3 linked regions of the Homo sapiens genome follow. The protein of the gene in region 3 purifies or fractionates together with the protein of the main gene of each other region. This does not show direct contact. Each region holds a gene or a part of one and is shown on either strand. Other genes may lie near its edges.

Region 1 (7,760 bases), about 61 Mb from region 3:
TAATCCCAGCACTTTGGGAGGCCAAGGCGGGCGGATCACGAGGTCAGGAGATCGAGACCATCCTGGCTAACAAGGTGAAACCCCATCTCTACTAAATATACAAAAATTAGCCGAGCATGGTGGCGGGCGCCTGTAGTCCCAGCTACTCGGGAGGCTGAGGCAGGAGAATGGTGTGAACCCAGGAGGCAGAGCTTGCAGTGAGCCTAGATTGCGCCACTGCACTCCAGCCTGGGTGACAGAGCGAGACTCCATCTCAAAAAAACAAAACAAAACAAAAAAAAAACCCTGTCTTCCATACCTAGGTAAGGCATCAAAAAACATTTCCAGATCTCCTCCACCATACCTGTCTGGGGAGGATTACGGTAAAGAGGTGTCTTGGAGTATTACGATATTACCTAGACTTTCCTTTATCGCTGCAGTTTTATATTCCTATAACATCCCGCTAATGTTGCTGGCAATATTGCTACTAAGCACACTACACTGTGGGATTCTTTTTTTTTTTTAAGACACCGTCTCACTGTATCACCAAGGCTGGAGTGCAGTGGCGCGATCTTGGCTCACTGCAACCTCCACCTCCCAGATTTAAGTGATCCTCCTGCCTCAGCCTCCCAAGTAGCTACAATGACAGGCATGCACCACCACGCCTGGCTAATTTTTGTATTTTTAGTAGAAATGGGGTTTCACCATGTTGGCCATGCTGGTCTTGAACTCCTGACCTTCAGTGATCCACCCACCTTGGCCTCCCAAGGTGCTGGGATTACAGGCATAGGCCACCTGGCTTTCTTTTTTGAGACAGAGTCTTGCTCTGTCGCCCAGGTTGGAGTGCAGTGGTGCAATCTTGGCTCACTGCAACCTCCACCTCCCGGGTTCAAGCGATTTTCTGAGTAGCTGGGACTACAATGGTGCCATCACATCCAGCTAATTTTTTGTATTTTTAGTAGAGACGGGGTTTCGCCATGTTAGCCAGGATAGTCTTGATCTCCTGACCTTGTGATCCGCCCGCCTCGGCCTCCCAAAGTGCTGGGATTACAGGCGTGAGCCACCATGCCCGGCCTTTTTTTTTTTAAATTAAAAAAAAAAAAATTCTCCTCTCCCATCCTCCTGGGATTCTTGAAGCAAGAAATTGTTGTAATCATCTCAATTGCCAGCAACTATCAGATCAATAACTGCTAATGTTTCTTGAGCCCTTATTAACAACAGGCACTTGCTAAGAGTTTTGTATGGATTATCTCATTTATTCCTTGCCATACACTTCAACGTAAGCACAGAGCTGATATTCTCCCAATTTTAACAGATAAGTGAACAGGCTGAGAAATTTAGGCAATCCGCCCAAGGTTACACAGATAGTAGGTGGCAGAGCCTGACTGTAATTTAGCAATCTGACTTGATTCTTGGATACATGAATAAATGCATATACTGAACATGTGGGCCACTGTTTTCTACATGTTGTAGAACAGTGTGTTCCCTCGTACCATGACACTTTGTCATTTCTTTTTAAGTTTTAGTGATTTTTAAATACAAAGGAATATATTAATTTTCATTGTAAGAAAACATTCAAACATTACAGATTAAGTCACATCTACCTTTTCCTTTCCAGAAGTTACTGTTATTGATGGGTGTGTTTCTTTCTTCCAGGCCTTCCATTATTTTCCTACAAACGTCAGCATATTTTCTGTAATTTTCTGCAATTTGTTGTATTCATTTATGTTTTATGACTTTTTGTACTAGTACTTACAGATCTAGTTTTTTTTTTCTCTGTTGCCCAGGCTGGAATCACTGGCATGATCAGGGCTCATTGCAGCCTCGACCTCCTATGCTCAAACAATCCTCCCGCCTCAGCCTGCTGGGTAGCTGGGACTATAGGCGTGCACCACCACAACTGGCTTTTTTTTTTTTTTTTTAATTTCTTTGTAGAGATAGGGTTTCATCACATTGCCCAAGCTGGACTTCATTCTTTTTAATAGCTGTGTACTATTCCCTAGAATGGCTAGTCCATCATTTATTCAATGATTCTCCTATTAATCGTCATTAACGTTTCCATTTGTTTCCCATTAGAAAAAAAGCACTTCATCCATACATCTTTTGGGGACTGCTTCTCAAGAGTATATTCTGTAGTTTAAATTTTTTAAAATCACTAAGGTTGTTCTGATTATGGAACATTTAAATCATTATAATTGATTCAAGTGGACAGCACAGATATTCTTCTGTGCTTAGATGATCGTATTGATAAAAAAAAAGATAATAAATATTAGGGCCTGAATGCTAAGTGCACATTTGTGAAGCCAAATCATATTTGTATAAGCCCAACAATATGAGAAAACTCCTTACATCAATATTTATAGAGATGGATCACATATTTTTGTAATTCCTGACTTACTAGTTAGGATTTTAGTTTTTTGTAAGCTGACATTCTTTCCTCTAACATAAACATGGTTTTCCTTAACAAGTGTTTTATTCTAGAAATGGTCTCGTTAGATTTTTCTGTAAATGTGTTTCGGGTTAATTAATTCGGCAGGGTTTTGTTTTGTTTAGAGATGGGGTCTTGCTTTGTTGCCCAGGCTAGAGTGTAGTGGCACAATCACAGCTCACTGCAGCCTTGACCTCCTGGGCTCTGCGATCCTCTTGCCGTAGCCTCTGGAGTAGCTGGGACTACTATAGGGCTTCACCGGGTAATTCCGAGTACCTGCATGTAGCCAATACAGTTCTGGGAACTTGCGGCTGTAGTAGTACATAAAACACACAATATCATTACCCTCTTGGAGGCCAGGCGCAGTGGCTCACGCCTATAAGCCCAGCACTGTGGGAGGCCGAGGCTGGTGGACCACTTGCTGTCAGAAGTTCAAAACCAGCCTGACGAAACCCCATTTCTAGTAAAAGTTCCAGATCAACATGGTGAAAGCCCCTCTCTACTAAAAATACAAAAATTAGCGGCGTGGTGGCAGGCGCCTGTAATATCAGCTACTGGGGAGGCTGAGGCAGGAGAATCGCTTGAATCTGGGAGGCGGAGGTTTCAGTGAGCCGAAATTGCACCACTGTACTCCAGCCTTGGGCAACAGAGCGAGACTCTGTCTCAAAAATAAAAAATAAAAAAAAAAGATTACCCTCTCGTAATTTTTCATGCTATTAAGGGAAGAGACAATAAAAAAAATAAGTAAATATTCATTACGCCAGATAGTGATAAATTCTTTGGAGAAAAACAAAGCAGGGTAAGGGAATGGAGAATTTTGGGGGGCTTGCAATTTTCATTAGGGTGGCAATTTTCCTTTTCACGGAAAAGGAGGTGTGTGATAAAGCTGGAAGGAGGTGAGCGAGCATCAGACATGGAATATAAGGATGCAGAGGGTGAGGGGGTAGGGAAAGCATTTTAGGGAGAGGGTACTGCAAGCACGAAGGCCATGAGGCAAAAACCTGTGCTCGGCAATTTGTCTTGGCCACAAAAGCTTTATCCCAGTCGTCAGTCCATTAAACCCTGTAGCTTTAAGTGTTGTGAGATCACAATCTTTATTTTTTAACTTGTGATGGTTCTGGACGGCAATTGCTGTTTCCTGCAATCTGTGGATGAATGAATGAGCAAAGCAGTTAGCAGCGGGATGAGTACAGGGGAGCAGCTCCACACCTGACACCTTATCCAAGTTCCCCCAGACCCTTGGCGCCCTGGTTCCCCCAGAACTTCGTTTGCATTCGTCTTTAAATGTCTTCTCAGTTTGCCTTGGGTCAGTTATTTGTATACCGATTAGACCTGTGCCGCCCACTGCGGTAGCAGCTAGTAGGAATTGGATGTGCTTTAAGTGTAAATACCAGATTTCCAAGACTTGCTGCAAAAACTGTAAAACATTCCACTAACGATTTTGCAATACTGCCTACATGCTGAAATAATTTGACTTTATTGGGTTGAGATATATTACTGTAACTTTCTTTTTTCATTAGAAAAATGTAGCCACTAGCAAATGTGAAGTGTCAGGCGTGTGGCGCGCAGATGCCTCTTTAAACTGGATGGCGCCGGGTTGGCCCTCACTATCAGCGGGCTCCCGACAGGAGGCGCCCCAGCTTGCGGCCGGGGGCAGCGCCTACCAGGCAGTTGGCAGGCAGTTCCAGCCCCGGGCCACGGCACTGCAGGGCCCGAGCCAGGTTACGGCAACCGGGGGCCCTGCAAACAGCTCCCGATTAGGGGGTGCTTTTGGGTGGGAAAGCGCAGGCCCTGGATGGAGGCCCGACCTGCGGCGCTCCAGCTCATCGCCCCGCCTCTTTGCGGCAGAGCTCAGGCCGGCGCAAACCGGTTCAGTGCTAGGACTGACGTCTCGCGCCGCCCAACCGCAGCACGCCCCCGCCTCCCCAGTCCTCTGGAAGAGACAGGGAACGTCTAGCCGCCAGGGTCCCGGGAGGCGGCTCTGTACCAGACGGACTATACTGAGAGCCTATGACAATAGCCGAAGGTGCCGGGGGGGGGGGGGGGGTGGCCTACTACCAATAAAGGAAGGGGAGGGGCGGGCCCTCGTTAGCTTCCCCCCCCTACCACGCTTCCTCGGGCGCGGGTCTACCCAGAGCCTAACGGGCGCGCGAGTGTGGGGGAAGGGCCTGGCGCGGGCTGGAGACTGCGCAGTGCGGTGCCGGCCGGGAGGGGGGGGGGGGGTGACGTAATCTCCGTCCGCGGCCGCGGCGCCCCGCCCCGCGACACCCTCCGCGAACCGCGAGAGCGCAGCGCAGGCGGTCCGCAGCAGCCGCAGCTCGGGGGCGGTGCCTGCCTTGCAGCCTCCCCTCGGCGATCGCGCAGCCCCATCTTTGTCCGGCCTCCGCGCTTTGTTCTCGGCGCCCGGGCCTTGGCCAGCCTGGCCAGCCGCCGAGCAGCCCCCACGCCGCGCTGGCGTCGTCCTCGCCTCCCTCGCCGCCGCCCCCCGCGCGCGGCCGGGCCTTGCCCCCCATGGTGTCCCGGCCAGAGCCCGAGGGCGAGGCCATGGACGCCGAGCTGGCGGTAGCGCCGCCGGGCTGCTCGCACCTGGGCAGCTTCAAGGTGGACAACTGGAAGCAGAACCTGCGGGCCATCTACCAGTGCTTCGTGTGGAGCGGCACGGCTGAGGCCCGCAAGCGCAAGGTGCGCCCGGCAGCCCACCGCGCGGCGGGCTCGGGGCCTTCTGCCGCTCCTGAGGCCGGCCGGCGGAGGGGCCCTTTTCCTGCCCTCTTCCCTTCCCCCGTTGCCTTTCCCTGTCCTTCCTCTTCCTCTCTCCTTCTGCCCTCTCTTCTCTTTACCCCTTCCCCCTCCTTTCCTTCCCCCCTCAACTCTCTCCCTTCCCTTATCTCCTCATCTTCCTATCCTTCCCCTCTCCCCCCTTCCCCCATTCTTCCTTTCCCTCCCCCTCCTCTCTGTCCCCTCCCCCTCCTCTCTGTCCCCTCCCCCTCCTTTCTCTCCGCCCTCCCCCTCCCTTATCCTTCTTGGCCCGGGAGGGGCGAGTGCTTCCGGGCCGGGGGTGGTGTTCTCCTGCCCTGCTGCCTGGGGAGCCTGGGACTTCGGTGGGCGGTCCCGGGCGTTCCTGCGCGAGGTCCTTGCGGGGAACTCTCCTGGTTCTGGAGGGTTCGGGGCTGGATGCGGGTGCAGAGAAAGAAATATTTCAAAAAAATGAGTAAAGGATGGGGGGCTGTCGAGTTCTGGGCGTTGGTCTGCAGCGGTCACCCGCCGCCAGGAGCGACCTTGGACGGGAGCTGGGGCAGGAGGCGGGCTGGGGGGCGCGGGGCCGGAGCTTCGCGGCTGCCTCGGGGCCCGCGAGGAGCTGGAGGTGGAGGGCGGCAGGGGCTGGGGCCGGGGCGAGCCTGTGGGTGCGGAGCCACAGCCCGGGTTTGCGTTGCGGCTGAGGAGTAGACTTGGAAGCGCGCCGTGGGCTGTGGGAGGCCTTAACCAGGAGTGAGTCCCCTCGGGGAGCCCAGTCTTGCGTCCCGCAGTTAGGCTTGGTAAGGGTTTGGAAATCAAAACGTAACGTGATTCTTCTATGTGAATAAAGTTTATTTTTACAGTTTCACGCGCTTTTGTAGATTACAATCCGAGATTGGGAGTTGTGAGGGCAGTTTCCACCTTGAGTGGCATTTTTTTATTTATGGGAATACCAACAGGCTCGCTGAGATTGTAGGGTATGTTAAGCAGTAATTCAAAAAAAAAATTATTTTTTTGAGACGAAGTCTCGCTTTGTACCCCAGGCTGGAGTGCAGTGGCGCGATTTCGGCTCACTACAATCTCCGCCTCCCGGGTTCAGCCGATTCTCCTGCCTCAGCCTCCTGAGTAGCTGGGATTACAGGCTCCTGCTACCACGCCCGGCTAATTTTTGTATTTTTAGTAGAGACGGGGTTTCACCATGTTGGCCAGGCTGGTCTGGAACTCCTGATCTCAGGTGATCCACCCGCCTCTGCCTCCCAAAGTGTTGGGATTACAGGCATGAGCCACCGTGCCCGGCCTCAAAATTTTTTTTATCTGTAATGGTATCAGGTAGCGTTATGTCTGGATGAACTAAAATCAGACATAAAACGTTTCAGGATCGGAGTTAGAGTCTTGCTAGTAGAATTGTGTGTCTTTAAGAAAAGATGGCCTGGCTTGGCGCGGTGGCTGACGCCTGTAATCCCAGCACGTGGGGAGGCCGAGGGGGGCAGATCACGAGGTCAGGAGTTCGAGACCAGCCTGGCCAACATGGTGAAACCTCATCTCTACTAAAAATACGAAAAGTAGCCGGGTGTGATGGCGGGCGCCTGTAATCCCAGCTACTCCAGAGGTTGAGGCAGGAGAATCACTTCAACCCGGGAGGCGGAGGTTGCAGTGAGCAGTGATCGCGCCACTGTACTCCAGACTGGGTGACAGAGCAAGACCCCCTCCGGAAAAAAAAAAAAAAGGGTGGCCTGGTTGAAGCCAGTCTTCTACAGGGAATGTGCTGTTGCTACTCTGGGTCAGTAGTGTCCGGATTGGGACGTGACGCGCCCAAGATTTGTTACTACTTTGGATGAAGTGGGGACCGCCCCACTCTTCCTCTCCCTCCTTTTCTTTTTCCGTTCCCTCCCTCCCTCTCCCTTTCTTCCCCCCTCTGGTATTTTTTAACCAAATAGAAGGAGTCAAGTTTAAACCATCATTAACTAACTTTGCCTAATTTCCTAAAGTTAAGAATTACTTTTTTTTTTTGCGCTACTTATGGCTCTGATTAATCTTTTAATTTCAGATGTCAGTTGCTTAGTTTCAAAACTGTTGAGCCACATGTATGTTATTCACCAATTAGAAGTTGAACTGTAGTCGGGTAGTGAAAAATATTTCTTTCAAAATTTAGGTGGGGGCTGCTGCAGTGCCAGTTGGCAGTGTGCCAGCAAGGAGCCCTTAAGCCCTCCATGCTTTTTCCTCTGACTGGGGGGACTTATTTACCTGTATCACTTCATGTGCGGTGTCCTGCATTTCTAGCACTCTCTAGTGGCCCAGTTAAGGAAGAGTTGGTTTGGGAAATAGTTTAACAAACCTGATGATTAACAGTTGGACAATCTGCATAGGATTTCCATCAGATCTGTAAGCTTAGGACATTTTGTTTTTTAAATTTTATTTTATTAAAAATTATTTTTTGTAGAGACAGAGTCTTGCTCTGTTACCCAGGATGGAGTGCAATGGTCTGGTCAGTGATCACTGCAGCCTCAGATTCCTGGACTCCAGCCTCTCCTGAGTAGCTGGGACTACGGGCGTGTGTCACCACGACCGGCTAATATTTGTAGAGACAGTGTCTCACTATATTGCACAGGCTGGTCTTGAA
Region 2 (7,020 bases), on a different chromosome or scaffold from region 3:
CGATGAAACCCCGTCTCTACTAAAAAATACAAAAAAATTAGTTGGGCGTGGTGGTGGGCGCCTGTAGTCCCAGCTACTCAGGAGGCTGAGGCAGGTGAATGGCATGAACGCAGGAGGCAGAGCTTGCAGTGAGCTGAGATCGCGCCACTGCACTGCAGCCTGGGCAACAGAGTGAGACTCCATCTCAAAAAACAAACAAACAAACAAAAAAAACAAAAAGCAAGAAAAACAAATGCATTTGATATATAAACTCAACACAGCATGTACATTATAGGCTTGAGAGGCCTCTATCAGTTCCCTCCAAGATAGCCGCTACCCCTCAGTATGAGGTCTCTTCTTCAAGATTTTTCCCCATACAGACATCAGCGTATATTTTACAATTATTTTATTGAGCTGGGCAGAGTAGCTCACACCTGTCTGTAATCCCAGCACTTTGGGAGGCCAAGGCAGGGGGATCATTTGAGCCCAGGAAGTTGAAACTGCGGTGAGCTGTGATTGGGGTACTGCTCTCCAGGCTGAGCCAAAGTGCGAGACCCTGCCTCAAAAACAAAATAAATAAGCTTTTTGATATCACCAAATAATGTGCACTCATGATTAAAGAGAGAGAGAACAGAGCAGAACGTCTGTATTCAAAAGTAGAAATCGGCCAGGCACAGTGGCTCACACCTGTAATCCCAGCACTTTGGGAGGCTGAGGCAGGTGGATCACTTGAGGTTAGCAGTTCGAGACCACCCTGGCCAACATGGCAAAAGCCCATTTCTACTAAAATAAAATACAAAAATTAGCTGGGCGTGGTGGCAGGCACCTGTAGTCCCAGCTACTCAGGAGGCTGAGGCAGGAGAATCACTTGAACCTGGGAGGCGGAGGTTGCAGTGAGCCGAGATTGTGCCACTGCACTCCAGCCTGGGCAAGAGAGCAAGACTCCGTCTTAAAAAAAAAAAGTAGAAATGTATAATGTATTCCCTTCTCATCCCATTTGCCAGAGTTTTTGGTGTCTACCTTTTTTATTTTTTTATTTTTACTTTTTTTTTTATGAGATGGAGTCTTGCTTTGTTACCAGGCTGGAGTGCAGTGACACAATCTCGGCTCACTGCAACCTCCGCCTCCCGGGTTCAAGCAATTCTCCTGCCTCAGCCTCCTGAGTAGCTGGGACTACAGGCGCACACCACCAAGCCCAGCAGATTTTTGTATTTTTGGTAGAGACAGGGTTTCACCATGTTGGCCAGGATGGTCTAGATCTCTTGACCTCATGATCCACCCACCTCAGCCTCCCAAAGTGCTTGGATTACAGGCATGAGCCACTGCACCCGGCTTACTCAGAATTTTTGTTTTCTCTTTCTGTTTTTGGGGGGTTTTTTGAGACAGATTCTCACTCTGTCACCCAGGCTGGAATGCAGTGGCACAATCTCAGCTCACTGCAGCCTCTGCCTCCTGGGTTCAAGCGATTTTTGTGCCTCAGCCGGCCAAGTAGCTGGGATTACAGTCATGTGCCACCATGCCCGGCTAATTTTTGTATTTTTAGTAGAGATGGGGTTCTGCCATGTTGCCCAGGCTGGTCTCAAACTTCTGGCCTCAAGCAGTTCATCCGCCTCAGCCTCCCAAAGTGCTGAGATTACAGGTGTGAGCCGCCGCACCTGGCCTGTTTTCTCTTTTGAATCAAATGGGAGCCTGTTTTTTTCCTCCAAGTATTTTGGGGATCTCTCCACGTGGATCTGCATGGATCTGCCTCATCCAGCGCCTGGGTCACGCCCCCCTAGCATCGCTTACCGTCCCAGAGGATGGTAGGCCTTGGGCCCTGGGGAGGAGTTGTCTTGACACAAGAGTGTCTGCCCTGGCAGGGCCATCCCGAGCCTCCTCCTGGCCACTGAGGTCTGGGAAGGACGTCCTCCGTTGGTGAAGTCCCTTCCTGCTCCCCAAGGATGGAGATCCATTTCCTGGTTCATCTGGAGCTCTGATCAGTACCCTGAGGCCTTCCCACCTGACCCCAGCTTCCCCTGCAGGCACTCACCATGCCCAGAGCATTTGTCCTTCAAAAGCTCATGCCTGTCACCACCAGGAATGTCTGTCCTTGGTCTGCTCGTGTGGAAGCAATCCCACAAATCCAGAACAGGTGGTGTGTTCTCCCAGACCCTGGCCTGGACTCTGCCATGAGTGACCACCACGGGCCAGTAGCCCTGCGGGGAGCCCAGCCGGCCCCAGGGCTTGGGCGGCTCACCTGCCCCAGCCAAGACGGGCTGCTTCTCCAGGCATGAGTCAGCATGGAGCTGGGAGACACTGCCACCAACAACTCGGGCCCCTTTCCTCCATGCTAGAACTGCGGAGGCCCCGGAAAAATGCTTTTCAACTGCCAGTGAGCTTCCAGGGGAGGCCCGTGCCACTCACCCCAGACGATCCGGAGGCCTGCAGGCCACAGGGTTGGGGCCGAGCGGGAGCTTCCCCAGGGCTTCTCCTCCCGGAGGACTGGCCCATGGCTCATCTTGAGTTCTCGCTTCATTTTGACCAAGAGCCCATAAAGGGCAAACATTGAGAGTGAAGACAGACGCCTCATGATGTGCACATCCCTTATGATCACTGTCACCTCCCCATCACCGTCGCCTCCTATGTCTCGCTCTCACCTCCCACTCCTCCCTCAGATCGTTCTTGATGTTGGCTGTGGCTCTGGGATCCTGTCGTTTTTTGCCGCCCAAGCTGGAGCACGGAAAATCTACGCGGTGGAGGCCAGCACCATGGCCCAGCACGCTGAGGTCAGTGGCCCGCTGGTGCCCACCCAGCCTCGTCCTCGCCCATGAGTGCCATGCCGGCCCCAGCCTAGAGAAGCTTGGGAACCCCCAGGGGCCTGGGGACATTACTTCTGTGCTTTGGTCTCTTTATTGTCCCCAAGACAGTCATTTCAGGGAGGGGCTTCAGGGCCTGAGATGATTTTCTCTCATGGCCGGTAGTCAGGGCCACATGTCATTTCCCTGTTTTCTTTTTTTTTTTTTTGCACTGAAACCTTCATTCACAAAGTTCAAAACATAAAAGCTAAAAAAGAGCAGACAGCGTGCTCTCCTTCCCCACCCCAGCTCCCACCCCCAGCCCCATCATGAGAGAGGAGCTACGGCCACAAAGTCTGAGCAGAGCTATTCCGTGAGCGTCCTCTCGCACCAGTGGAGGCTGCACCCTCCATTCCCTGCTCTGCCTCTCCCATGGATCTGGGGTCGCCGGGGTCGTGGAGGGGCCATCTTTGTTCTGTCTTGCCGCCGCAGAGCACCCCTGTGCCCAGCCGTGCCGCTGTTGCTTTAGCTGCATTGTGTCCGCAGCGACACTCAGACTCCTTCCAGGTCTTCACGTGGCCAACGCTGCTGTCCTGAGCCCCTCTCCCACATGCGGTTGTGTCTGTAGGACACACCCTAGCCCTGGAATCGCTGGGTTGGGGGTGCATCCAGCTTTAGCTTTGGTGGCTGTTGTGATGTCTGCTCGTCCCCCTCTTTGCAGCCACCAGCAGTTGTCGACGCAGGGTGGGGGACCTAGGAGGCCGCAGCAGGGGACGGCCCTGAGGCAGGGCCGGGGTCACAGTGAACTCTCTTTTTTTTTGGGGGGGGTCTCACTCTGTTGCTCAGGCTTGAGTGCAGTGGTGCGATCCTGGCTCATTGCAACCTCCACCTCCCGGGTTCAAGTGATTCTCCTGTCTCAGGCTCCTGAATAGCTGGGATCCACCACTGCAACTGGCTAATTTTTGTATTTTTAGGCCAGGCATGGTGGCTCACACCTGTAATCCCAGCACTTTGGGAGGCTTAGGTGGGCGGATCACCTGAGGTCAAGAGTTCGAGACCAGCCTGACCAACGTGGCAAAACCCCATTAGCCAGGCGTGGTGGTGGGTGCCTGTAGTCCCAGCTACTCGGGAGGCTGAGGTGGGAGAATCGCTAGAACCCGGGAGGCAGAGGTTGCAGTGAGCCGAGATGGCGCCACTACCACCTCCAGCCTGGGCAACAGAGTGAGAATCTGTCTCAAAGAAAAAAAAAATAGTTTTTTTTTTTTGGTATTTTTAGTAGAGACAGGGTTTCTCCATGTTGGTCAGGCTAGTCTCCCAACTTATGAGGTCAAGCAGTCCGCCTGCCTCGGCCTCCCAAAGTGCTGGGATTACAGGCATGAGGCACCGTGCCCGGCCCACAGTGAGCTCTTAACAGGCTATGGCCAATCGCAGCCATGGTTGGGGCGCCAGCGAAGCAGGCAGAGGGGCACCCAATGCCCATGTGTGGATGGAGGCTGTCCCTTGAGAGCAGGTCTAGGGAGGGCCCCATGGCAGGAAGACGCAGGGAAGCCCACATGGCCCTGCCCGCCTGCAGGTCTTGGTGAAGAGTAACAACCTGACGGACCGCATCGTGGTCATCCCGGGCAAGGTGGAGGAGGTGTCACTCCCCGAGCAGGTGGACATCATCATCTCGGAGCCCATGGGCTACATGCTCTTCAACGAGCGCATGCTGGAGAGCTACCTCCACGCCAAGAAGTACCTGAAGCCCAGCGGTGAGCACTGGGGGGTACACAGGCCAGGCCCCTCGGTGGAGGCCCTGGCTGCCGCTGAGCCAGGCCATCAGTGCTTCAGCTCCCTGCTTACTGTCGGTGGCCCGGGGTGTAGGGAAGCCTGGGCTTTTCCCCCGCTCCCACCCCAACCCCACTCCAGCCAGCTGTGGCTTTTGGAGCCCTGGGCCCCAAACACGGCCAGACACCCAGCTGCCCACTCGCCCAGACAGGGTACACAGGATCTCCTGGCACCTCTGCCGTCCCATGTCCTGCTCCTGCGGGACAGCCTCTGGCTGGGAGTGGGGATTGGGACAGGTTCTGTGGTCAGCAGTTCCCCAACAAGCCCTGCTCTCCTCACAGTCCAGGAGGTGGGGTGGGCGAGCATGTGTGCAAATGCAGGGGTGTGGGTGCGAGTGTACGTGTGTGAGGAGGTGAGGTAGCTGTCTGGCAAGCCCATCTGTCACTTCCCATCCGTGCCTCTGGGTATGGCCTCTGGTCACTGGGTGACTGTTTCTTTTTTTGAGACAGAGTTTCACTCTTGTTGCCAAGGCTGGAGTGCAGTGGTGCGATCTCGGCTCACTGCAACCTGCACCTCCCCAGTTCAAGCAATTTTTGTGCTTCAGCCTCCTGAGTAGCTGGGATTACAGGTGTGCACCACCACGCCCAGCTAAGTTTTGTATTTTTAGTAGAGATGGGGTTTCACCGTGTTGGTCAGGCTGGTCACGAACTCCTGACCTCAGGTGATCTACCCGCCTCAGCCTCCCAAAGTGTTGGGATTATAGGCATGAGCCACTGTGCCTGGCCTGGGTGACTGTTTCTATTTGCCCATCTGTCTTGGGGTCTGTGCAGCCCTGACGCCTGAGGCATGTGCCTGTGGCTCTTCTCATGCTAGGTATGTGAGCGTCTGAGCATTTCTGTACAGGCAAGCAGCTGTGTGTGCGTGTGGCAGGGTACAGGTCCCCAGCCAGGGTAGCAGCCATGGGATGGAGCGTGGGCAGCAGCAGGCTGGTGGGGCTTGTGCAGGCAGGGGCAGGGGGGAAGCTTCCACTCTCATCTCTGGCCCGCCCTGGATCCAGGCCCTAGGGTCCTGGCTGGCTGTGCTCCTGGAGGTGGGAGGTGGCGTCCCACAGCTGTGTCTCATGTCTTGGGTGTGAGTATGGGAAGCAAGGCTGCTCCAGGGGCTGTGGGCCCCACTCTCCTCCCCTTCTGCCCTGATGGTGGGGATGGGGGTGGGGACAGCCCCAGCAGAGAGGGCCCCTCCCGATGGGACATGAAGCCAGATGGCAGTCAGGCTCTGTGGGCAGCTGCATGTGCCCCCGACGTCCCAGCAGCCAGCTTGCAGGGAGGGGGGAGGCCAGGCCTGTGCAAGGAGGACTCCTGTCCAGCTCAGGAAGCTCTTCCAGGGGTTAAAGGCAGCCCTCCCCTCTCCCAGTCACATGTCTTCTGGTCAGCAGGAGCCAGAGGTTCCTTCCAGGCTGGGTCACTTCCCATGGTGCCCCCAGGTCCCCCAGGGCAGAAGCCGCAGCATGTGCATCTCCCTCCCCGTTCCAGCAGCTGCAGCCCTGCAGCTCTCGCCTCGGGTACAGCCTGGTGGCGTAAGGAGGAGGCAGAGTCCCACTGATACCTCAGGATCTCCTCCCCCAGCTTGCAAGGCTGGGGGGCCCACATCTGGAGGCCAGGTGCTCCTTGGGGCAGGCGGGGCTGCGGGGCCCTGATCCTCCCTGCCACTGGCCCTGACTCATGCGTCTACCCTTGAGTCACAGAGGGAGGCCCTGCCCTTCCCTCAGTCTGTGTGCCCAGACCAGGCAGGCCAAGTGGCCCATCCTGCCGGCTGGGTGCCTGTGCCAGAACCTAGGCAGTCCCTGTGGTGTGGATTTGGCTTCCCCCACCTGGCTCTTGGCCTCAACTGAGGTCCCCAGCGGCGTTGGGGTAGCCCGGGGCCCACCACCCTCCCTCTGTCCAGAGCAACTTTGCTATGCTTTCCCGGCTGCACACATGCACAGACGGCAGGGCCTGAGAGGCAGCGCCTGGCCACATCCCGGGCACTGCCTGCTTCCCCGTGAGTCTTTGGCAGGTCCCTCACACCTGCCAGGTCTAGTAATAGGACATAAAGATGAGCCACCAGCCTCCCAGTCTCAGGTGGAATTCGTGAGCTGGTGCAGGTCAGGTACCCGTGGTGGTGATGAAACACTGATCAGAATAGGCGCTCGGTGCCACTGTCACAGGAGTGCAGGAACGAATGGATGACAGGCTGGGAGCACCCAGGGTTGGGGGTCTTGGGGTCCTTTGGAAGCTCTGCCAGGCAGTGTGGGATGTGTCACCTGACGCCAGCACCCCTCCCTGCCCCACTCCCAGGAAACATGTTTCCTACCATTGGTGACGTCCACCTTGCACCCTTCACGGATGAACAGCTCTACATGGAGCAGTTCACCAAGGCCAACTTCTGGTGAGTGTGCCCTGGGTGTCCCGCCTGGGCCCCACAGCCTGCCTTCTCAGGGACAGCCCCAGCTCCCCAGAGA
Region 3 (7,020 bases):
TTCTTGGTTCTGGTAGAACCAGGTGCTGGCACCACCTACCCTCCCCGGCTGTGCCCCTGGCCTGGCCAACGGGCTCAGGGAGGTGTGGGCCACGGGGTAGGCCGCAGTTTCCCAACTGCACCCCAGAGGTGTCGCGGGTGTGCCCTGACCTGAGCGTACCAGTCTCCTCGCTTCTGATGTCTGGCTGGTGCTGGGGCCGGGGCCGGGGCTGGAGTGACGAGAGGCAAAGCAGGAGGTTCTTGAGGGGCCCTCCAGGCCCCCACCCCCACCAGCCAAGCAGCGGACAGCACCGGCCCTGCTGTCTCTCCCCTCCCACCCTCCCCACTACCCTTGCCCACGTCCCCCCACCCCAGGCATTTCAACCCTCTCCCGCCAGCCTGGCCCTCGCTCTGACTGGCATTTGACCTCGGACAAGCGCCACGCCGTTTTTTTATTTTTATTTTTATTTATTTATTTATTTTTAAGACGGAGTCTCACTCTGTCACCAGGTTGGAGTGCAGTGGCGCGATCTCAGCTCACTGCAAGCTCTGCCTCCTGGGTTCACACCATTCTCCTGCCTCAGTCTCCTGAGTGGCCGGGACTACAGGCGCCCACCACCACGCCCGGCTAATTTTTGTATTTTTAGTAGAGATGGGGTTTCACCATGTTTGCCAGGATGGTCTCGATCTCTTGACCTCGTGATCCATCCATCTCAGCTTCCCAAAGTGCTGGGATTACAGGCATGAGCCACCACGCCCAGCCATGCCATTTCTTAAGATCCAGGTGCTCCCTCCCCGGGCGGAGAAGGACCTCCTGAGGGGGAGGCTGAGCCCTGGGCTGCCCTTGGGTGTGAGCGGTTCACACACCCACCCACCCTAGGGCAGAGCCAGCCCACCAGGGGCGAGGAGGGGCCCTGCTGGCCGAGAGGTGGAAGCCCTTCTCCTGCGCCCTTCCTGCTGCCAGACCCCACCCCAAGACTAAGGTTATGCTCCCCGGGGGTGACCGGTGTCCCTCTCTCCTTCCCGAGCCTGGACACTTGGCCTTTGTCTCCTCGGTTCCTTATCACGGCCTGTTCTGGTGCAGGCTGCCCTTGGCGCTGGAGAGGCCACTGGCCGACGGGCTCATCAGAGCTGCCGGTGACACCAGGGGCCAAAGGCGTCGCCTGGGGACAATGCTGCCCTCTGTCCTTCCTGGAGCCACTCTGGCCGTGCCTGGTGCCCTCCCCTGGGCCCGCCTGCCCCCTCCGCCTCGTTCCCTCTGTGACCTGGTTCCTGTTCCAGGCCTCACCTGGGCTGGCTGCTGGCCACAGGCTCTGTTCTGGCCCCTCTGCAGGACACCTCACCCTCCTTAGGCCCCTTCCAGGGTCCCACTGGGATGGACCCCCCCTCACCCCAAGCCAGTGAGGCCAAGATGGGACCTTCGCCCCAGAGCCGGGTGGGTGGGTGGGCTGGCTGCGCTGTGGGGCCCGGCCGTGGCACCTTGACCACTGTTTGTGGCAGGCATCAACCCAGATTCACTCCGAGGAACACACACTGGCGTCTGGGTGGGCGTGAGCGGCTCTGAGACCTCGGAGGCCCTGAGCCGAGACCCCGAGACACTCGTGGGCTACAGCATGGTGGGCTGCCAGCGAGCGATGATGGCCAACCGGCTCTCCTTCTTCTTCGACTTCAGAGGTGGGTCCTGCCCAGCCTCCTGCGGAGGTGGGTGGCCTTCAGGTCCCCACATGCTGAGCAGAAACCACGTGGCGTGGGCTCACTCCGTGCAGTGTGTGTCCAGCCTGGTGGCAGGAGGTGTGCTCAGGGGTCTCGTGTGCTCACAGCCCCACCTGAGCCGCAGCACCCTTCCTTGCAGGGCCCAGCATCGCACTGGACACAGCCTGCTCCTCCAGCCTGATGGCCCTGCAGAACGCCTACCAGGCCATCCACAGCGGGCAGTGCCCTGCCGCCATCGTGGGGGGCATCAATGTCCTGCTGAAGCCCAACACCTCCGTGCAGTTCTTGAGGCTGGGGATGCTCAGCCCCGAGGGCACCTGCAAGGCCTTCGACACAGCGGGTGAGTGTGCGGCTGCGCGGCCAGGGCAGGCGGGACAGTGGCACAGGACGGCCCCCCGCACAGTCCCCACGCTGAGCAGGATCCTGCCAGCTCCGGGGATCCCCCACCCAAGCACCCACCCCACACCCCAGAGCTCCTCCTGGTGGGGTGGGGGCCGGCGTGGGGCTGAGCCCCGGGCCTGAGGTGCTGCTCTACCCAGGGAATGGGTACTGCCGCTCGGAGGGTGTGGTGGCCGTCCTGCTGACCAAGAAGTCCCTGGCCCGGCGGGTGTACGCCACCATCCTGAACGCCGGCACCAATACAGATGGCTTCAAGGAGCAAGGTGGGCTCTGCCGGGGTTCCGGGGTGCTGGGGGGCAGGTGGGAGCCGGGGCTGGGGCTGCAGCACTGAGCCGAGCCCTCCGCAGGCGTGACCTTCCCCTCAGGGGATATCCAGGAGCAGCTCATCCGCTCGTTGTACCAGTCGGCCGGAGTGGCCCCTGAGTCATTTGAATACATCGAAGCCCACGGCACAGGCACCAAGGTGATGCCCCCCCCCCCCGCCCCACTCACCACCCCATGAGCCTAACCTACGCCCATGCCTGGAGAGGTGACCTGGCCAGAGCCCCTCACCCCCCATGTTTCCCACAGGTGGGCGACCCCCAGGAGCTGAATGGCATCACCCGAGCCCTGTGCGCCACCCGCCAGGAGCCGCTGCTCATCGGCTCCACCAAGTCCAACATGGGGCACCCGGAGCCAGCCTCGGGGCTGGCAGCCCTGGCCAAGGTAGGTGGGGCTGGGCTTGGGGGTCCCTCAGGCTCCTGCTCCCTGGGACTGGGTTGCGCCATGGCTGGGCACTGCTGCTTTCTCTTTGCCAAGTGGAGGCGGGGGCTTCCCCACCAGGAGCCTCTGTCCCCCGGGCTATGCTGCAGGTCTGAGCAGAGGCACTGAGGCTGACAGCAGGGAGAGCTCGTAGCCAGGCTCGCTGGGCCTTCCCTGGAGGCCTGATGCCCTGCAGAGCGTCTGCCGGACACGGAGCCGAGCTGGAGGAGCCGCTTGGGTGGGAAGAGCGAGGCAGGAGCAGGCCTGGGGGGGTCCACGGCACCATCAGGGTCTCCCGTGTCGCCCACCCGTCCCTACAGCTTCCTGACCCACTAGCAGAGGCCTGGGGACCTTTAGAGAGACCAGGCACAGGAGCCCCAACACCCATGATCACTCACGCCCTCTGCCCCCCAACTTCTGCAGCCTCTGAGATGCAACATCTGGGCCAAGGGGGCCTTAGTGTTCAGGCCACAGCCAGGCTTTGGTGGGTCCACATCAGGCTGGGAGGCAGCAAGGCCGGAAGGGGAGGTCTTGGACCAAGCTGAGGGCAGGGCCATGGCGGCTCAGTCCTCGGACCCCTGTGCCATGGCAGAATTAGGTTGGGGACAGGAAGTGCATCGGAGAGGGCCCTGGAACCCTGGCCCCACATGAGAGTCTCGGGGAGGTGCCTGCCCCCAGCTCAGGCAGTGGTAGAGGGAGTGGGGCGGCTGCCCATCCACCACGTACCCCCGCAGGTGCTGCTGTCCCTGGAGCACGGGCTCTGGGCCCCCAACCTGCACTTCCATAGCCCCAACCCTGAGATCCCAGCGCTGTTGGATGGGCGGCTGCAGGTGGTGGACCAGCCCCTGCCCGTCCGTGGCGGCAACGTGGGCATCAACTCCTTTGGCTTCGGGGGCTCCAACGTGCACATCATCCTGAGGCCCAACACGCAGCCGCCCCCCGCACCCGCCCCACATGCCACCCTGCCCCGTCTGCTGCGGGCCAGCGGACGCACCCCTGAGGCCGTGCAGAAGCTGCTGGAGCAGGGCCTCCGGCACAGCCAGGACCTGGCTTTCCTGAGCATGCTGAACGACATCGCGGCTGTCCCCGCCACCGCCATGCCCTTCCGTGGCTACGCTGTGCTGGGTGGTGAGCGCGGTGGCCCAGAGGTGCAGCAGGTGCCCGCTGGCGAGCGCCCGCTCTGGTTCATCTGCTCTGGTGAGCCCACACTCTGCCCCCAAGGTGGTCCCTTCCCTGGGGAAAGGCAGGCGAACTGGAGCTGGTGGTCCCCTGAGGTGCTCTCTGGGACGGGGATGGGCACACAGTGGCACGGGATGGGGCTGAGCCTCGTGACGTGCTCTCTGGGACAGGGATGGGCACACAGTGGCGCGGGATGGGGCTGAGCCTCATGCGCCTGGACCGCTTCCGAGATTCCATCCTACGCTCCGATGAGGCTGTGAAGCCATTCGGCCTGAAGGTGTCACAGCTGCTGCTGAGCACAGACGAGAGCACCTTTGATGACATCGTCCATTCGTTTGTGAGCCTGACTGCCATCCAGGTAGGGCCCAGCCTGCCAGCGTGTGAGCAACGCCAGCCCCAGGGCTCTGGCTTTCCCTGGAGCCCAGGAGCTGCAGTGTTGAGTCCGGGGCCCCTGACAGCCCCTTTGCTAGGCAGAGCCTTGTGCTGGGGGCAGGACGGGAGGGGAGGAGGGGTCTCAGTGGGGCTGTGTGGGGGCCATAGGGGCTTCTTTCCTATCAGGAGACCTGGGAGGGTCGATGGGGCGCGGGGGTGGAGATGGCCTAGTGGGGCCGGGGGCCGCCCCCAACAGCTGCACCTGCTGGAGGTTGCAACCTGAGTGTCCTGTTCCCACCCCAGATAGGCCTCATAGACCTGCTGAGCTGCATGGGGCTGAGGCCAGATGGCATCGTCGGCCACTCCCTGGGGGAGGTGGCCTGTGGCTACGCCGACGGCTGCCTGTCCCAGGAGGAGGCCGTCCTCGCTGCCTACTGGAGGGGACAGTGCATCAAAGAAGCCCATCTCCCGCCGGGCGCCATGGCAGCCGTGGGTAGGTCTCCCGGAGGGGCCCCCAGCACCTCCAAGAAAGGAGGCTGCCTTCTCGCTGTGGGGTCCTCACCTGCAGCCCTGGCCTGGCCCCCGTAGGATAGAGTGGCCCCCGCTGGCCCGGGGACACCCAGCTCGGACACAGCCGTGCGCGAGTCCCCTGCAGCTGCCCCACTGGCCCCACACCTGGCAGCCTTGGGCCTAGGCACGTGTCCATGGGCATCAGGCCTGCGTGGAGCCCCCGTGTGATGAGCACACAGCTGCAGCATAGCAAGAACCCAGGGGCTCTGGTGAAGCCAACACACGGGTCATCAGGGTTCCCTCAGACTGGTGCCCTCTGTTGGCACCCATCTCTGAGCCCCATGGGCCACATGTGGGCAGGACCTGGAAAGAACCTTGGCTGCAGAGGACTGAGGGGGCCACCATCTGGGGACTGGGCTCCCAGGAGCTGCCCCTGGAGTGGCAGCTCTGTAATGACACCTCCACCCACGGGTCAAACACAGCAGGGGGCGAACCTTTCTCATGAAGGCTCCAAGGCTGCCATTACCACACTTGTCATTACTGCCCCCAGCTGCAGGCAGTGTCTGGGTGGGTGGGTGGCTGGGAGCGGCTCGGTGTCCACGCTAAGCCTCTGAGGCTGGCTCTGCCATAGGCTTGTCCTGGGAGGAGTGTAAACAGCGCTGCCCCCCGGGCGTGGTGCCCGCCTGCCACAACTCCAAGGACACAGTCACCATCTCGGGACCTCAGGTGGGTGCTGCGGCCTGGGCGGGCTCCTCTGTCCCCTGCGCCTGCCATTGCAAGTCTGGCAGGGACACGCGGCCACGGTCTACGCCCCACCAAGCTCTGACGGGCCTGGGGCATGGGGCAGGTTTGTCCTCAGGTCCCTTGCCCATTCCCTCTCGGTTCCCTTGGGGTGAGGTGGGTGCGCCCTACCTCTCCGAGCCTGAGGTGGGTGCCCAGCCAGGATGCTTATCCAGGCTCCCACGATGTCCAGGCCCCGGTGTTTGAGTTCGTGGAGCAGCTGAGGAAGGAGGGTGTGTTTGCCAAGGAGGTGCGGACCGGCGGTATGGCCTTCCACTCCTACTTCATGGAGGCCATCGCACCCCCACTGCTGCAGGAGCTCAAGAAGGTGGACTAATACGGCCTGGGGGGTGCGGGGCGGGCCAGGGGACCCACAACCCAGCACTGACCTGGCCCCTCATGCAGGTGATCCGGGAGCCGAAGCCACGTTCAGCCCGCTGGCTCAGCACCTCTATCCCCGAGGCCCAGTGGCACAGCAGCCTGGCACGCACGTCCTCCGCCGAGTACAATGTCAACAACCTGGTGAGCCCTGTGCTGTTCCAGGAGGCCCTGTGGCACGTGCCTGAGCACGCGGTGGTGCTGGAGATCGCGCCCCACGCCCTGCTGCAGGTAGGCCCAGCCTGGGGGCAGCAGGCGCCGGGAGCCTGGGATGGGCGCCTCAGCTGAGCACCAAGAGAGCCCACCTGCCCTGCCGCCCCCAGGCTGTCCTGAAGCGTGGCCTGAAGCCGAGCTGCACCATCATCCCCCTGATGAAGAAGGATCACAGGGACAACCTGGAGTTCTTCCTGGCCGGCATCGGCAGGCTGCACCTCTCAGGGTGGGTCCCTTCCCAGCCCGGGTCTCGTCTCCCGGAGTCGGGGACGGCGTGGGGTGGGTGAGCGGGGCTGCGGGCCCCTCACTGACCCAGGCCGGTGGCAGCAGCCCTGGATGGTCCACCGCAGGCAGTGGGTGGGCTGAACCCAGAGCCCCTGGACCCCGGTGACGGGTGTGCTACCCATGCCTCCCTTCTCCGTAGCATCGACGCCAACCCCAATGCCTTGTTCCCACCTGTGGAGTTCCCAGCTCCCCGAGGAACTCCCCTCATCTCCCCACTCATCAAGTGGGACCACAGCCTGGCCTGGGACGTGCCGGCCGCCGAGGACTTCCCCAACGGTTCAGGTTCCCCCTCAGCCGCCATCTACAACATCGGTGAGCAGGGGCCCGGCGGGTGGGCAGACTCTTCCCTCCCCACAGACGCCCGCTCTGTGCTGAGGCCTGTGCCCTCCCGCAGACACCAGCTCCGAGTCTCCTGACCACTACCTGGTGGACCACACCCTCGACGGTCGCGTCCTCTTCCCCGCCACTGGCT

What was found. Proteins that work in one complex are often made in the same cells at the same time.
Region 1: the proteins of FASN (region 3) and USP22 purify together in Homo sapiens (affinity purification with mass spectrometry; 3 studies listed by BioGRID and IntAct, with this or other methods). This does not show direct contact.
Region 2: the proteins of FASN (region 3) and CARM1 fractionate together in Homo sapiens (co-fractionation; 2 studies listed by BioGRID). This does not show direct contact.

The regions. Positions count from the first base shown.
Region 1 is NC_000017.11:21,039,994-21,047,753, reverse strand, and holds the start of USP22 (ubiquitin carboxyl-terminal hydrolase 22), read left to right. Parts: upstream 1-4,742; 5' UTR 4,743-4,918; coding exon 4,919-5,089; intron 5,090-7,760. UniProt on the Homo sapiens protein: Deubiquitinase that plays a role in several cellular processes including transcriptional regulation, cell cycle progression or innate immunity.
Region 2 is NC_000019.10:10,909,551-10,916,570, forward strand, and holds part of CARM1 (histone-arginine methyltransferase CARM1), read left to right. Parts: intron 1-2,633; coding exon 2,634-2,744; intron 2,745-4,326; coding exon 4,327-4,504; intron 4,505-6,856; coding exon 6,857-6,947; intron 6,948-7,020. UniProt on the Homo sapiens protein: Methylates (mono- and asymmetric dimethylation) the guanidino nitrogens of arginyl residues in several proteins involved in DNA packaging, transcription regulation, pre-mRNA splicing, and mRNA stability.
Region 3 is NC_000017.11:82,088,230-82,095,249, reverse strand, and holds part of FASN (fatty acid synthase), read left to right. Parts: intron 1-1,478; coding exon 1,479-1,652; intron 1,653-1,830; coding exon 1,831-2,031; intron 2,032-2,230; coding exon 2,231-2,353; intron 2,354-2,437; coding exon 2,438-2,553; intron 2,554-2,660; coding exon 2,661-2,795; intron 2,796-3,565; coding exon 3,566-4,028; intron 4,029-4,180; coding exon 4,181-4,368; intron 4,369-4,685; coding exon 4,686-4,875; intron 4,876-5,109; exon of another isoform or gene 5,110-5,290; intron 5,291-5,523; coding exon 5,524-5,618; intron 5,619-5,865; coding exon 5,866-6,000; intron 6,001-6,077; coding exon 6,078-6,281; intron 6,282-6,373; coding exon 6,374-6,489; intron 6,490-6,687; coding exon 6,688-6,860; intron 6,861-6,942; coding exon 6,943-7,020. UniProt on the Homo sapiens protein: Fatty acid synthetase is a multifunctional enzyme that catalyzes the de novo biosynthesis of long-chain saturated fatty acids starting from acetyl-CoA and malonyl-CoA in the presence of NADPH.